Linked DNA regions of Homo sapiens. The protein of the gene in region 3 purifies or fractionates together with the protein of the main gene of each other region. This does not show direct contact. Each region holds a gene or a part of one and is shown on either strand. Other genes may lie near its edges.

What was found. The genes of interacting proteins can lie anywhere in the genome.
Region 1: the proteins of ARHGAP17 (region 3) and OPA1 fractionate together in Homo sapiens (co-fractionation; one large-scale study listed by BioGRID). This does not show direct contact.
Region 2: the proteins of ARHGAP17 (region 3) and NIPSNAP1 purify together in Homo sapiens (affinity purification with mass spectrometry; one large-scale study listed by BioGRID and IntAct). This does not show direct contact.
Region 4: the proteins of ARHGAP17 (region 3) and PALS1 purify together in Homo sapiens (affinity purification with mass spectrometry; 2 studies listed by BioGRID, with this or other methods). This does not show direct contact.

What each region holds. Positions count from the first base shown.
Region 1 is NC_000003.12:193,599,708-193,603,207, reverse strand, and holds part of OPA1 (dynamin-like GTPase OPA1, mitochondrial), read right to left. Parts: intron 1-3,500. UniProt on the Homo sapiens protein: Dynamin-related GTPase that is essential for normal mitochondrial morphology by mediating fusion of the mitochondrial inner membranes, regulating cristae morphology and maintaining respiratory chain function.
Region 2 is NC_000022.11:29,560,614-29,564,113, reverse strand, and holds part of NIPSNAP1 (protein NipSnap homolog 1), read left to right. Parts: intron 1-2,251; coding exon 2,252-2,322; intron 2,323-2,467; coding exon 2,468-2,608; intron 2,609-2,911; coding exon 2,912-2,943; intron 2,944-3,285; coding exon 3,286-3,380; intron 3,381-3,500.
Region 3 is NC_000016.10:24,935,370-24,938,869, reverse strand, and holds part of ARHGAP17 (rho GTPase-activating protein 17), read left to right. Parts: intron 1-3,230; coding exon 3,231-3,400; intron 3,401-3,500. UniProt on the Homo sapiens protein: Rho GTPase-activating protein involved in the maintenance of tight junction by regulating the activity of CDC42, thereby playing a central role in apical polarity of epithelial cells.
Region 4 is NC_000014.9:67,303,935-67,307,434, forward strand, and holds part of PALS1 (protein PALS1), read left to right. Parts: intron 1-3,500. UniProt on the Homo sapiens protein: Plays a role in tight junction biogenesis and in the establishment of cell polarity in epithelial cells.

The DNA of each region.
Region 1 (3,500 bases), on a different chromosome or scaffold from region 3:
TCCTTCCTGAATCTTTGAAGCTTCCATTATTGAAAGCTCTCCACAGCTCATCATGGAACAGACAAAGTGATCCAAATTATGAAAAAATACTGGTGGGGTGACTATTCTGACATTACTAAAATGGCTTATAATCAATGTTTGACTTGTCAAACTCATAATCCCAGAAAAACTAGAGGCAGTATATTTCCACCACCTGATGGACCATTTGAACATTTACAGATGGACTTCATTCAGTTACCACCCTCAATGGGGTATCAGTATGTTCTTGTAATAGTTTGCATGTTTTCTGGTTGGATAAAGGCCTTCCCATGTAGGAAAGCTGATGCTGTGACCATAGCTAAGAAATTATTAGAAAATGTTTTTCCTTTATGGGGGATCCCTCTAAAAGTCTCCAGTGATAGAGGAACTCATTTTACTGAGCAAGTTATAAAGCAGTTAAATAAGGTGTTACTGACACAGTTGCATTACCATTGTCCTTATTACCCTCAGTCTTCAGGAAAGCTTGAAAGAACAAATGGCATTTGAAAACTGAAACTGTCCAAGTTAACTGAATCAATTGAGTTGCCTTGGCCAAAGGTACTACCTTTTGGTTTTAATGGCAATCAGATTCAATCCTGTTGGAAAACATAAATTGACCCCTTATGAAATAGTCACTGGGAGGCCCATGTCCCTAATAATAGCATCTCATGCTTCTCCTGCTCTCTTAAACTCTGATATGACTAAATACTGCAAGGCTTTAATGTATTACGCCAAAGTATACTTCCACCAGGTAAAGGAAGCATTTCAAGATCCACCAACTGAGGACAATCAAACCCTCCATGGTCTGGAATTTGGAGACTGGGCCTTCCGGAAATGACATCAGAAGAAGATCACTCTTGAACCTCGTTGGATGGGACCATACCAAGTCCTTCTTACCACCCACAGTGCAGAGAAGCTTCAGGGCTTTGAACCATGGGTCCACATCTCACAATTCAAAAGGGCCCCCTCAGACTCCTGGTACTATATACCCGTTGGAGACTTTAAGGTAAAGCTGACCAGGGAAATCTCTTCCCAGAAGCAGACAGCATCCTGGTTACAGACAGCTTTCCCTAGATCACAGATCAAGACTTCTCTACCACCATGAAAGCCTTATGTGTTTTTCTGTTTTCCTTATTTTTTTCCCTAATCCTTTCCTTTTCCTTACATGAAAATCCATGGGACCATAATCAGTGGATGGCTTCAGCTCAAGCTTATGCTCTAGCACAAAACCAGGGTAACTGTTGGGTTTGTGGGCTAATGCCAAAAAATCAGGAAATGATTCCAAGGGTGCCAGTGCCCCTCCACGTTTCCCAATGAGTCACCCTGAAACCCCAAGGGAAGAATGGAAAGCTATTCTTGATACTCTAAACATCACTAGTACTTGCTTTCCTACACTCACTAAAAACAACACTCTTTTTCAACTGATAAAGTCGATCACACCAAATATAAAAAACAAATCCAAATGATGCCTACAAAACGTATATTGTGCTTGCAGGCATCACATACTCAAGATTTGGGAATTACTTATGTTAGTACAAGTGATTGCTTGTATATCCAGTAGGGTCTCTTTTTACTAGATGTGGTTATACACCCTTACAACACACTACAAAGGGGCCATAGAAAAGTAAATTTCCCACTGGATGTTATTCAGGAGCTACAGATTCATGGTCGAACAAACCTGAATGATCCCTGCTCAAATACAACTAGGTGGCCCCCTTTTCCAACCCCTGAGGGTCTCTATTGGGTCTGTGGAGAATCTGCATATTCTGTTCTGCCTCCTTGGTTGGTTTGGTTCTTGTTATCTGGCCTGGCCTGCTCCTGCCTTTCGAATTGCTTCCCCTGAAAATTCTCATGATAGCCCTTATACTTGGAGGCCAAAATGATCAATAACTGAAATTAGCACTAGCCTCGAAATAGACGAGGATAAGCTAGTTTCTACCGGGGAAAGATTCCACTGGGGTTCCTGGGGGCTCACTCTTGGTGGTAGTGAAGTACCATTTGTACGGAATTTAAAACTAATTTGTATATTGGGAAAATTCTTGGATTTGGTAGCCAATCAGACCTCCCAGGGTTTCAGATGGGTAGAAGCTACTCTCAGAAAGGCACATGACAACATACATATTCAACGAAAACACTTAATGGAAGATCATGCAGTCTTAGATCTTCTTTTTGCTCAAGCTGGAGGCCTATGTTTGGTGTTAAACAAAACTGAATTTTGTACTAATCCCTCCCCTGATTCTGTTACTACAAAAAGCTTAATTTAAAAGGTGGCTGATACTGCTGTTTCCTTAGACACTGCCACCAAGTACAATAAAGAAATCTCTCAAGAGAAAGGAACCCACGATATGTTTATAGGAGCAACTAACAGTTGGTTTGCAGGCATCCTAAGTGGTGAATGGCAAGCTTGGGTTTTCCAAGGGTTTCTAATCTTTATATCTCTTCTAGCAGGTTTTCAAGTTATTATGACTTGTATTAACAAGGTAACAATGAAAACGAGCACCTCTTTAAGTCAAGCTACTTTACAGCGAACTATGATCCTTAATCACTATCATACTCCAACTGAAGACTCTGACCAATCAGACCCCAATACTGCTGAACTGCTTATATTGTCTGAACCTTAACTTGGCTGATTTGGTTCAGTTCATTTCATAAGAACTTTTATTAAGGAGTACACCTTAGCATTTTGACGGTGTCCTCTTAACAGTCATAATAATAGTCCCCTTGGTGCACTGTATACTCTCAAGTCTTAAATGTTTTGTATGCAGCTGTACATTGACAGTTGAATGGTCTTACTCCAACTGGATCAGCAAGAACATAAAGAATCATTTAGCTGGTACAAAGTTGCAACTTGTGAATTCCCTATTAACACCAAAGAAGATGTGTGAGACTCCATACTGAAACTAAAGACGACTTGTGAGTTCCACACTGAGACCAAATAAGTCTTTATGATGGTGACAGAGAGTGGTGTCAACGCCTAAAGTTTTGGTCAATCTCTCTAAATTGAGGGGCTGACCAAAAGGGGGAATTGTTAAAGCGAACTAAATATGGCCCGAAGAGGACTCCGTACTTTTATATTTGAGTCCTTGTGGACGAACTGTAACCTAGCTCAAATAGGCAGACAAAATCGAAAACCTAACTTAGTAGTATGCATCTGTAATAACAGCTGAGTGTTGGCCAATCCCAGCGGCCATACTTCAACCACTCATAGACTGCTGAGTGTTCAAACTGCGTTCAAATAAGGCAAACGCCGAGCTGTAACCAATCTCACTGTTTCTATGTCTCAATTCTGATTCCTGTAGGTCACTTTACCTTTTCTGTCTATAAATTTGTTCTGACCACGAGGCACCCCTGGAGTCTCTCTGAATCTGCGGTGATTCTGGAGACTGCCCAATTTGTGGATCATTTTTTTTCTTTGCTCAATTAAACTCCATCAAATTTAACTTGTCTGAAGTTTTCTTTTAATTCTATGTTTTGCCCAAGGT
Region 2 (3,500 bases), on a different chromosome or scaffold from region 3:
GGCCCAGCCATGCTCCCAGGATGGCAAAACTGTTCCTTTCTTCTCCTCCACAATTAATTAGGTTTCTTTGTTACTAGGAATTAGATTAGTTTCCTGGGGTGGCCAGCATACCGCAAACTGGGTGGCTTAAAATAACAGAGGTTTATCCTGTCACAGTTCTGGAGGCTGGAAGTCACAAATCAAGGTGTTGACAGGGCTGTCCTTCCTCCTAAGGCCTTAGGGGAGAACCCTTCCTTGCCTCTTCCAGTTTCTGGGGATTGCTGGAAACTCTTAGTGTTCCTTGGCTTGTAGACTTGTCATTCTAATCTCTGCCTCCCTCGTCACATGCTGTTCTCTCTGTGTGTCTCTGTCTTCACATAGTGTTCTCCTGTGTCCAGATCTCCCACTTCTGATAAGGACACTAGTCACTGGACTCAGGGCTCACCTAGTATAATCTCATCTTAGGTCGATTATACCCACAGAGACCTATTTCCAAATAAGGTCACATTCTGAGGTTCTGGGTGGGCATAAATTTTGAGGGGACATTGTTCAACTCAGTGCAGATAATATGATTTTTATTTATTTTTATTTTTATTTATTTATTTTTTGAGACGGAGTCTTGCTCTTTTGCCCAGGCTGGAGTGCAGTGGTGCGATCTCAGCTCACCACAACCTTTGCATCCCAGGTTGAAGCGATTCTCTTGCCTCAGCCTCCTGAGTAGCTAGGATTACAGATGTGCATCACCACGCCCAGCTAATTTTTGTTTTAGTAGAGATGGGGTTTCGCCAAGTTGGTGAGGCTGGTCTCAAATTTCCGACTTCAGATGATCCACCTGCCTCAGCCTCCCAAAGTTGATTATTTATTTACTTGAGACGGAGTCTCACCCTGCCACCCAGGCTGGAGTACACTGGCACAATCTTGACTCACTGCAACCTCTACCTCCTGGGTTCAAGCGATTCTCCTGCCTCAGCCTCCCGAGTAACTGGGATTATAGGCATGTGCCACCACACCCAACTAATTTTTTTTTTTTTTTTTTAAGATGGAGTCTCGCTCTGTTGTCCAGGCTGGAGTGCAGTGGCATGATCTCGGCTCACTGCAAGCTCTGCCTCCTGGGTTCATGCCATTCTCCTGCTTCAGCCTCCCGAGTAGCTGGGACTATAGGTGCCCGCCACCACGCCTGGCTAATTTTTTGTATTTTTAGTAGAGACGGGGTTTCACTGTGTTAGCCAGGATGGTCTCGATCTCCTGACCTCGTGATCCACCTTCCTCAGCCTCCCAAAGTGCTGGGATTACAGGCGTGAGCCACCGTGCCCGGCCCAGGATTTTTATAAATTCTAACAGTACAAAGAGTTTTCCATGCAAAGTAAGCTTCCCTCCTGCCCGAGGCCCCACAGGCCTCCATTCTGTGTCCCAGGGGCATCTACTGTCAATCTCTTTTTTTTTGAGACGGAGTTTCGCTCTTGTTGCCCAGGTTGGAGTGCGATGGCACAATCTTGGCTCACCGCCACCTCTGCCTCCCAGGTTCAAGTGATTCTCCTGCCTCAGCCTCCCAAGTAGCTGGGATTACAGGCATGCGCCACCACACCTGGCTAATTTTGTATTTTTAGTAGAGATGGGGTTTTTCCATGTTGGTCAGGCTGGTCTCCACCCACCTCAGCCCCGCAAAATGCTGGGATTACAGGTGTGAGCCACTGCGCCTGGTCTACTGTCAATCTCTTAAGTCGCCATTAAGAGGTGATGCATAAATTAGCATCTCTGGATGTCCTTGCCACCTCAACACATGAGGTAGCATACCACACATCCTCTTCTGTTCCTTGGTTCCTTTTTTCAATTCACTGTCTTGGAATGTTCCATATCAGCCCATCAGTTCTCCCCTGTTCTTTTGTTCAGCTGCCCCTCTAAGGCCTGGTGGTCTTCCTTATGCATGCCACTGCTTCCAGGGTACAGGACACATCTGATCTTCTTGTTGCTATTTAAGGAAGGTGGGGTGGGAACATTATTCCCATTTTCAAGATGAGAACATTGAGGCCTAGAGCAGTCCAAGGCTGCTGGGCAGAGCTGGAGCTCAAATCCAGGTCTCCTAGACTTGTGTCTAGGGTCATCCCCTCCCCAGCATGGTCTTCCACCAAGGCAGAGGGAACTCAGGGAGTCTTGCTGCTACAGGGAACCAGGCCACCCCGCCTCCCCCGTCCCCACCACTTAGCCAACCTTGAGGAGGTCATCTGCTGGGGGTCCCAGCAGCTCACTGACCTATACCTCTCACCCCCAACAGTGCACCTGTGGCGATTCTCAGGTGGCTACCCAGCCCTCATGGACTGCATGAACAAGCTCAAAAACAATAAGGTATGTTAGTGTCCACTCAGCACACCTCTCTGGATGTGGGATGCAGCCCAGCCCTGTTCTGGGGACTACTCTGCTACCCCATGAGGCACACTGTCAGGATGGAGCGCACTTCCTGGTAGCCATGCCTTTACCACCATGCCCACAGGAGTACCTGGAGTTCCGAAGGGAGCGGAGCCAGATGCTGCTGTCCAGGAGAAACCAGCTGCTCCTCGAGTTCAGCTTCTGGAATGAGCCACAGCCCAGAATGGGTCCCAACATCTATGAGCTGAGGACATACAAGCTCAAGGTGCCTCCCTCCGACAGACCCCCTCCTGCCCCCCAATTTCCCTGCTGCAATGCTGCTTTGCAGCTGCCCCAACACCTAGACTGGGGCTTCTGGCTTCTCCCTCCCTATGGGCTCAGAGCAGAGTTGTATACACATGTGTGCAAACATGCACACCAGGTGTGTGTCAGGGCCTGCGAATGAGGCCAAATGGCCGCTGCAGCTTGGGAGGTGGGGAGACAGGGCAGTTTCCCTTCCTTGCCAAGCTGTGATGCTATGAATCTGAGGTGGGGGCTCATTCCCATCATCCCTTTGGTTCTCTTTCAGCCAGGAACCATGATCGAGTGGGGGAACAACTGGTAAGTGGCAGCACCAAGACTGGGGTTGGGGGAGGCGTACCCTGCTCACCTGCCCCACCAAGGCCCCTGGTGGGCCACCTTTTCCAGGGCCATATCACAGGGAACTCTTTACCTTCTGCCCCTCATGGATCTGGGAGAAGGATCCAGCCAGGAGGTGAGGATCTCCTAGAAGGTTGTGACCCCTCCGTTGGTAGAACACCCCGCCATCAGTCCTTTCTCTCAGCATCCCGGAGGACCGTGGGTTCCACCTAGGCCCCTCCTGTGAAGTGTGGCCAAGGAATCAGCCTCAGTACCCTCTGCACCAGCCCTGGCTTCTGCCCCATATTATTGTGCCTTCTCCAGGGCTCGGGCCATCAAGTACCGGCAGGAGAACCAGGAGGCAGTGGGCGGCTTCTTCTCACAGATAGGAGAGCTCTACGTGGTGCACCATCTCTGGGGTAGGTTGAGGACCTTCCAGGAGCCTTTTGTTAGTTCTCTTTCTCTGTCATCACTCTCTGTAGCCAATGGGGTTGTATTAGTGTCCTCATAGAACTTAATGTTCTAGCAGGAGACACTAT
Region 3 (3,500 bases):
ACCCCCAGATTTCAGTCTTGTAGGGCAGTTGATCCATGAGTCCAAGGTGGAAAATAAGATGGTAGCTTTTCTTTTTTCTTTTTTTTTTTTTTTTTTCTGAGACTGCGTCTTGCTCTGTTGCCCAGGCTGGAGTGCAGTGGCATAATCGTAGCTCACTGCACCCTCCGCCTCCTAGGCCCAAGCAATCCTCCTACCTAAGCCTCCCAAGTAGCTGGGATTACAGGTGCTTGTCACCATGCCCAGCTAATTTTTTTATTTTTGTAAAGATGGGGTAAACATAGATGCCCTAGGTTGCCCAGGCTGATCTCGAACTCCTGGCCTCAAGTGATCTTCCTGCCTCAGCCTTCCAAAATGCTGGGATTACAGGCATGAGCCACCATGCCTAGCTGGTAGATTTTCTTAAAAGGCTCTTTTAGTTGCTTAACCTTTGGATAAGCCACCTGGAGTGGGCTGCAAATGGATAGCAACTTTTAAGAAAAGTCACCTTGAACTTGAGGTTTTTTTTTTTGAGACAGTCCCACTCTGTCGCCTAGGCTGGAGTGCAGTGGTGCAATCTCGGTTCACTGCAACCTCCGTCTCCCGGGTTCAAGTGATTCTCTTGCCTCAGCCTCCGGAGTAGCTGGGATTACAGGCACACACCACCATGCCAGGCTAATTTTTTTGTATTTTTAGTAAAGACAGGGTTTCGCCATGTTGGTCAGGCTGGTCTCAAACTCCTGACCTCAGGTGATCCCCCTGCCTTGGCCTCCCAAAGGCTGGCATTACAGGTGTGAGCCACCGCGCCCAGCCATAACTTGAGATTTTTATTTAATTGACATTAATTCAGTTCTCCACACTGATCCAGGCAGATGACCACCAGAGGCTACTTCAGGTGGCATCTCTTGTGGTTTGGAACTGACAGCTGCTTAGCTTTGCATACATGTGTGCCAAAATTTTTGTTGTCATATGTTCTGCATTGGCCATCCACAACACACCGAATGATCATATATGAAGTAAAATAAATGTGCACAAAACAAGGACAGGCTGTTTATCCACACGTTTATTTCCCACACAGAGAGATGAATTTGCCTTGAAAGAACTCCTTTCTCATCGTCCTTGGGATGAGCAAGGGAGAGCCTTGTTGTGTGTGAAGCTGCTCGTGAGATAGGAATCTTGTTTCACCATTAAAACTGAATGCTGAATGCTTTGTGCATTCCTGAATTCCATTTTCTTCACCTTGGGAAAGTTTACTTTGGGGTTAAAAAAAATTAAGACTTCAGACTTCTTAGGGCTTCCCGTGCACCTCATAGGCTGCACGTTAGCTTGTCAATAATTGTGCCCTATGCATGTACTTGTTTTGGTTTAAATTTTTTTGTTTGAAGGAAAAAAGTCTAAGCAAATTCACTTATTTTCTTTTTCTTGGTTTTGTTTTTTATTTTTATTTATTTTTATTTATTAATTTATTTTTTGAGACGAAGTCTCGCTCTGTTGCCCAGGCTGGAGTGCAGTGGTGCAATGTTGGCTCACTGCAACCTCTGCCTCCTGGGTTCAAATGATTCTCCTGCCTCAGCCGCCGGAGTAGCTGGGATTACAGGCATGGACCACCATGCCTGGCTAATTTTTGTATTTTCAGTAGAGATGGGGTTTCACCATGTTTGCCAGGCTGGTCGCGATGTCCTGACCTCAAGTGATCCACCTGCCTTGGCCTCCCAAAGTGCTGGGATTACAGGCGTGAGCTACTGCCCCGGCCTGTTTTTTGTTGTTTTTTTTTTTTCAGACAGGGTCTTGCTCTGTCACCCACGCTGGAGGGCAGTGGTGTGATCATGGCTCACTACAGCCTTTTAATCTCCCAGGCTCAAGCGATCTTCCCACCTCAGCCTCCCAACTGGGACTATAGTAGTGCATCCCCATGCCCAGCTAATTTTTTTAAATTTTTGTAGAGACGAGGTCTCACTGTGTTGCCCAGGCTGGTCTTCAATCCTGGTCTCAAGCAGTCCTCCCTCCCTAACCTCCCAAAGTGCTGGGATTACAGGCATGAGCCACCATGCCCAGCCAATTTACATATTTTCATTTCCTTGTGACATTCCATTTGTTTAATCAAGGCTAAATGTATTATTTAAGACAATAATTAGTCTTAATGCAGAAGGACAAATGGAATGTCAGTTACTTTGCTTTTTTTTTTTTTGAGACAGCATCTCGCTCTGTCAGCCAGGCTGGAGTGCAGTGGCATGATCTTGACTCACGGCAACCTCCACCTCCTGGGTTCAAGCGATTCTCCCACCTCAGCCTCCAGAGTAGCTGGGACTACAGGCATGCGCCACCACGCCTGGCTAATATTTGTATTTTTAGTAGAGACGGGGTTTCACCTTGTTGGCCAGGCTGGTCTTGAACTCCTGACCTCAAGTGATCCATGTGCCTCAGCCTCCCAAAGTGCTGGCGTTACAGGCGTGAGTCACTGTGCCTGGCCTGCTGTTTGTTTTTTATACTGTATTCTGTAGGTATTTTTATGTACATTACACTAATGTTATTCACTCTTTGGTGACCTTGACAAAATGGAGCTACAGAGTTTGGTATAAAAAGTTCTGGGCCAGGAAACAGGAAGCCTGAATTCTGATCTCTATCCTGCTGCTACCAACTCTGGACTTCGAGTAGTCATTTAGCCTCTGAGTTCTCCTTCTTCAGTCCAAGTTATTGATAATAATCAAGCCCTTTATCATTTAGGGTCTTATTTTGCCATGGCTTTTGCTTAGTTTTGTACAGTGTATATGTCAACATGTAAAAGCCATTTCATGGTATTAAGTACTGCCCAATTTAAGTCCAAACGCAGTAGAACTGAAAACTCCGCATTGGTTGCTTTGAAATGGTCTCTCTGATGATACTGGAGTGGCAGAGTCGTTGGAGTCCAGTCTGATGCAACGAATCTCATAAAATAAATAGTCCTATAGTCCCGGCTACTCAGGGTGCTGAGGCAGGAGAGGATTGCTTGAGTCCAGAAATTTGAGACCAACCTGGGCAACATAGCAAGACCTCATCTCTTAAAAAAAAAATGGCACCAAGTAAACATTAGCTCTTTATATGGCACCAAGTAAACATTAGCTTTATAAGCCCAGTGTGAGCTAGTTAGAATTTCAGATCCTTTTCCTGCCTGCCGAAGTGAAAACTCTGCTTGGAATCTTATGTTTTATGTGCAGTATGTTCAGATTTTCTAGCTGGGATTGTCTGACGTCTAACTTGACTTTTACTCCTCTTAGTCCTCCCAAACCGAAGGACCCTGTATCTGCAGCTGTGCCAGCACCAGGGAGAAACAACAGTCAGATAGCATCTGGCCAAAATCAGCCCCAGGCAGCTGCTGGCTCCCACCAGCTCTCCATGGGCCAACCTCACAATGCTGCAGGGCCCAGCCCGCATACACTGCGCCGAGGTAAGCAGCCACCGTCCTCCTTGCCCTCAGGGAAGCCTGTGCAGACCTCCTTAAGTTAGTGCAAGGATTCAGATGGTGAGGTTTGTGGCCAGATCTTTTC
Region 4 (3,500 bases), on a different chromosome or scaffold from region 3:
TTTTTGTATTTTTGGTAGAGACAGGGTTTTGCCATGTTGGCCAGGCTGATCTTGAACGCCTGGCTTCATGTGATCTGCCTGCCTCGGCCTCCCAAAGTGCTGGGATTACAGGTGTGAGCCTTCACATCCAGCCAACTCTGCACCTTTTTAAAATAAAAAGTAGAAAATAATTTCAGTTTCAGAATTTTTTTTATAGTTATAGGTGGGTTTACTTAACTTAGTATGGAGTAGGGCAAGTGCTTTTTAAAAAGTATGTGTAACCCTTCTTTTAGAGTATATTGTTCTGTTAGACATTTACTCAGCTAGATCTGTTAAAAGTCAGTCTCCATTACCATACAGTCAAGCAATTGCATTCCAAAGTATATATCCAAAAGGACTGAAAACATATATTCACATAAGAATGTCTACATGAATGTTCATAGCAGCAGCATTCACAGTAGCTAGAAAGTAGTAACAACCCAAATGTCTGTCAGGTGATGAATCAAAGACAAAATATGTATGTATGATGGGATATTATTTGATAATTTTAAAAGCCTACAGTACTGATATATGCTACAACATGGATGAACCTTGAAGAAATTATGCTGAGCGAAGGAAGCCAGTCACAAAAGGCCATATATTGGTTCATTTATATAAAATGTCCAGAATAGGTAAATCCATAGGAGAGAAAGCAGATTAGTAATTCCTTAGATGTGGAGATGAGGATTTATGAGGGAATGGTGATTACTAATCAGTACCAAGTTTCTTTTTGAGGGCATAAGTATGTTTTAAAATTGTTTGTGGTGATAATTGTACAAATCTGTGAATAAACTAAAACCATCCAATTGTGTACATGAGTGAATTGTATATGAATTATATATCAATAAAGCTATTTAAAAATGAAACTTTAAAGTGTTGAATTAACATGGAAGCTTGATGTATTGCATCTGTTATTCTTAACTTTAAAGCATAGCAGTTTGAGAAAGAACACAGTTTCATTTTTCTCTCAATATTTCATCACAGGTATGCTTTATAGTTTGGCTATCATTCCATGTTTTCCCTTAATTTTTTACAGAACATACGGAAGTTGATATTGTATCTGCAACCTACTTTATGTTTACAGTTTTTTTGCAGGAAGAGAAATGAGGAAATATAGTTTGTCTTTGAATTTAAACAGCTTGATTCTCTGTGCATTGTGCTGTTCCCTGTATCTCTTCTGTGTATAAGCCCTGAACTTCAAAAGTAGCTCTGCAAACTGAGGAAACATAACAGAGGAGGGTTGGAATATACTCCTACTTACTTATCTACAATAATCCATCCCTCCTGAGTAAATGACTTTTGTCTTTTGAGAATAAATGTCAGAAGTTAAGACATTTTTTTTTTTTGAGGTGGGATCTGGCTCTATTATCCAGGCTGGAGTGCAGTGATGTGATCACGACTCCTGCAGCCTTGACTGCCTGGGCTCAAGCAGTCCTCCTACCTCAGCCTCCCTAGTAGCTGGAAACACAGATGCATACTACCACATCCGGCTAATTTTTTTGTACTTTTGGTAGAGATGGCTTTCACTATGTTGCCCAGGCTAGTCTCGAACTCCTGAGCTCAAGTGGTCCACCCGCCTCGGCCTCCCGAAGTGTTGGGATTACAGACGTGAGCCACAATGCCCAGCCAAGACATGTTTTCTCAACATTTTTTTCCTGCTATTCATGCAGAATCTGGAATTCTGTAAAAGAAAAGCCATTTTTTTCATGGATAGAATTAATCGAAGTGTTACATTGAAACTTGTTGATTCTCGTTGTATGCAAAACAGAATATCAAAGCAATTAACTTACACAGATTGTTTCAACCTAAGAATGAAATAACTTACTTATCCTTTAGTGGTTATTTAACCCCCAACTTTCATTATTGATTAAGAATAAAAGGCTGGTTTAATCTGAAGACCAAAGGAATATAGGTTCATGGTGAACAATCTCTGGAACTACTTAACTGGAAAATGAAGTAGCTTAAAAAGGAAGAAAGTGGGAGAAAGAGCAAAATGCCACATCTATCCCTTTTAAAATGGAGCTTTTTCTGTTCTTTTTACTTGGAGTCTCACTCTTGTCACCGAGGCAAGCAGTGGCACCATCTGGGCTCACTGCAACCTCCGCCTCCCAGAGTCAAGCAGTTCTCCTGCTTCAGCCTCCCTAGTAGCTGAGACTACAAGTGCATGCCACCACATCCAGCTAATTTTTGTATTTTTAGCAGAGATGGGGTTTCACTATGTTGGCCATGCTGGTCTCGAACTCCTGACCTCAGGTGATCTGCCCGCCTTGGCCTCCCAAAGTGCTGGGATTACAGGCATGAGCCACCGAACCCGGCCTATTTTCATATTTAAAGTAGGGATCTTTTCAGAATAGAGTGATGTGCAGTATTTTTCTTTTCCTTCTTTTCTCTTTTGTTTTTTGTTTTTTTTGAGACAGAGTCTTGCTCTGTCGCCCAGGCTGGAGTACAGTGGTGCGATCTTGGCTCACTGTAACCTCTGCCTCCTGTGTTCAAGCATTCTCCTGACTCAGCCTCCCAAGTAGCTGGGATTACAGGCGCCCGCCACCATGCCTGGCTGAATTTGTGTGTGTGTGTGTGTGTGTGTTTGTGTATTTTTAGTAGAGACAGAGTTTCACCATGTTGGCCAGGCTGGTCTTGAACTCCTGACCTCTGATGATCCGCCCACCTTGGCCTCCCAAGTGCTGGGATTACAGGCATGAGCCACCATGCCCAGCCCCTTCTTTTCTCTTTTTATTATGAATAACTCTCAATTGCAATATATCTTGCCAAGTTTTGTCAGACCTAACTGGCTTAAAATGAACTGCTATTATTAAAGCTCATTGAGGCTGTCCAGAAAGGAAACAGTAATAGGAAATCATAATCTTGGTTGACATATGCAGAATAATTATCTATGGAATTAATAATCTAAAGAAATTAGAACCAATTTATTGAGTATCATTATGGTACAGGTCAGCATCTGTTGATAGCAGCAGCAGCAGATATCTTCCTGATTTATGTTTTGTGATGTTAGAAATGTGTTTAAGACAGATATACAAAATAAGTGTTATCTGAAACCCCTATATAATGACTTGTTGAATTATGATGTCATGTATGGCAATAATAAGCTGTGTCAGAAGTGCTCTCTTGAGTTCTTAAATTTCTTTTGTATCACACATAGCAATCAGTGGCTGCTCTTTCAGTAGCAGAGGGCAAGAGTCTTGGCACCTCTGTATTTCACTTCCTGAGTAACTGGCACATTTGATCTAGGAAATGCATACATTATTCAAACGTACAGTTTCCTTCTCTCGGCCTTTTTAAAAAAAGGAAGGATTGGATTTCCCAGACTAGTTTGTAAAACTTTAGATTATTCTATACTATAATAATATGTAGGGAGGGCATAATAGACTTTTATCTGAATGGGACTTTTTCATTTAGTCTAATGCCATAATCTAACAAGGAGTGTATTTAAATGAAGAAGGATCACATCGCTTATTAGTTACAGA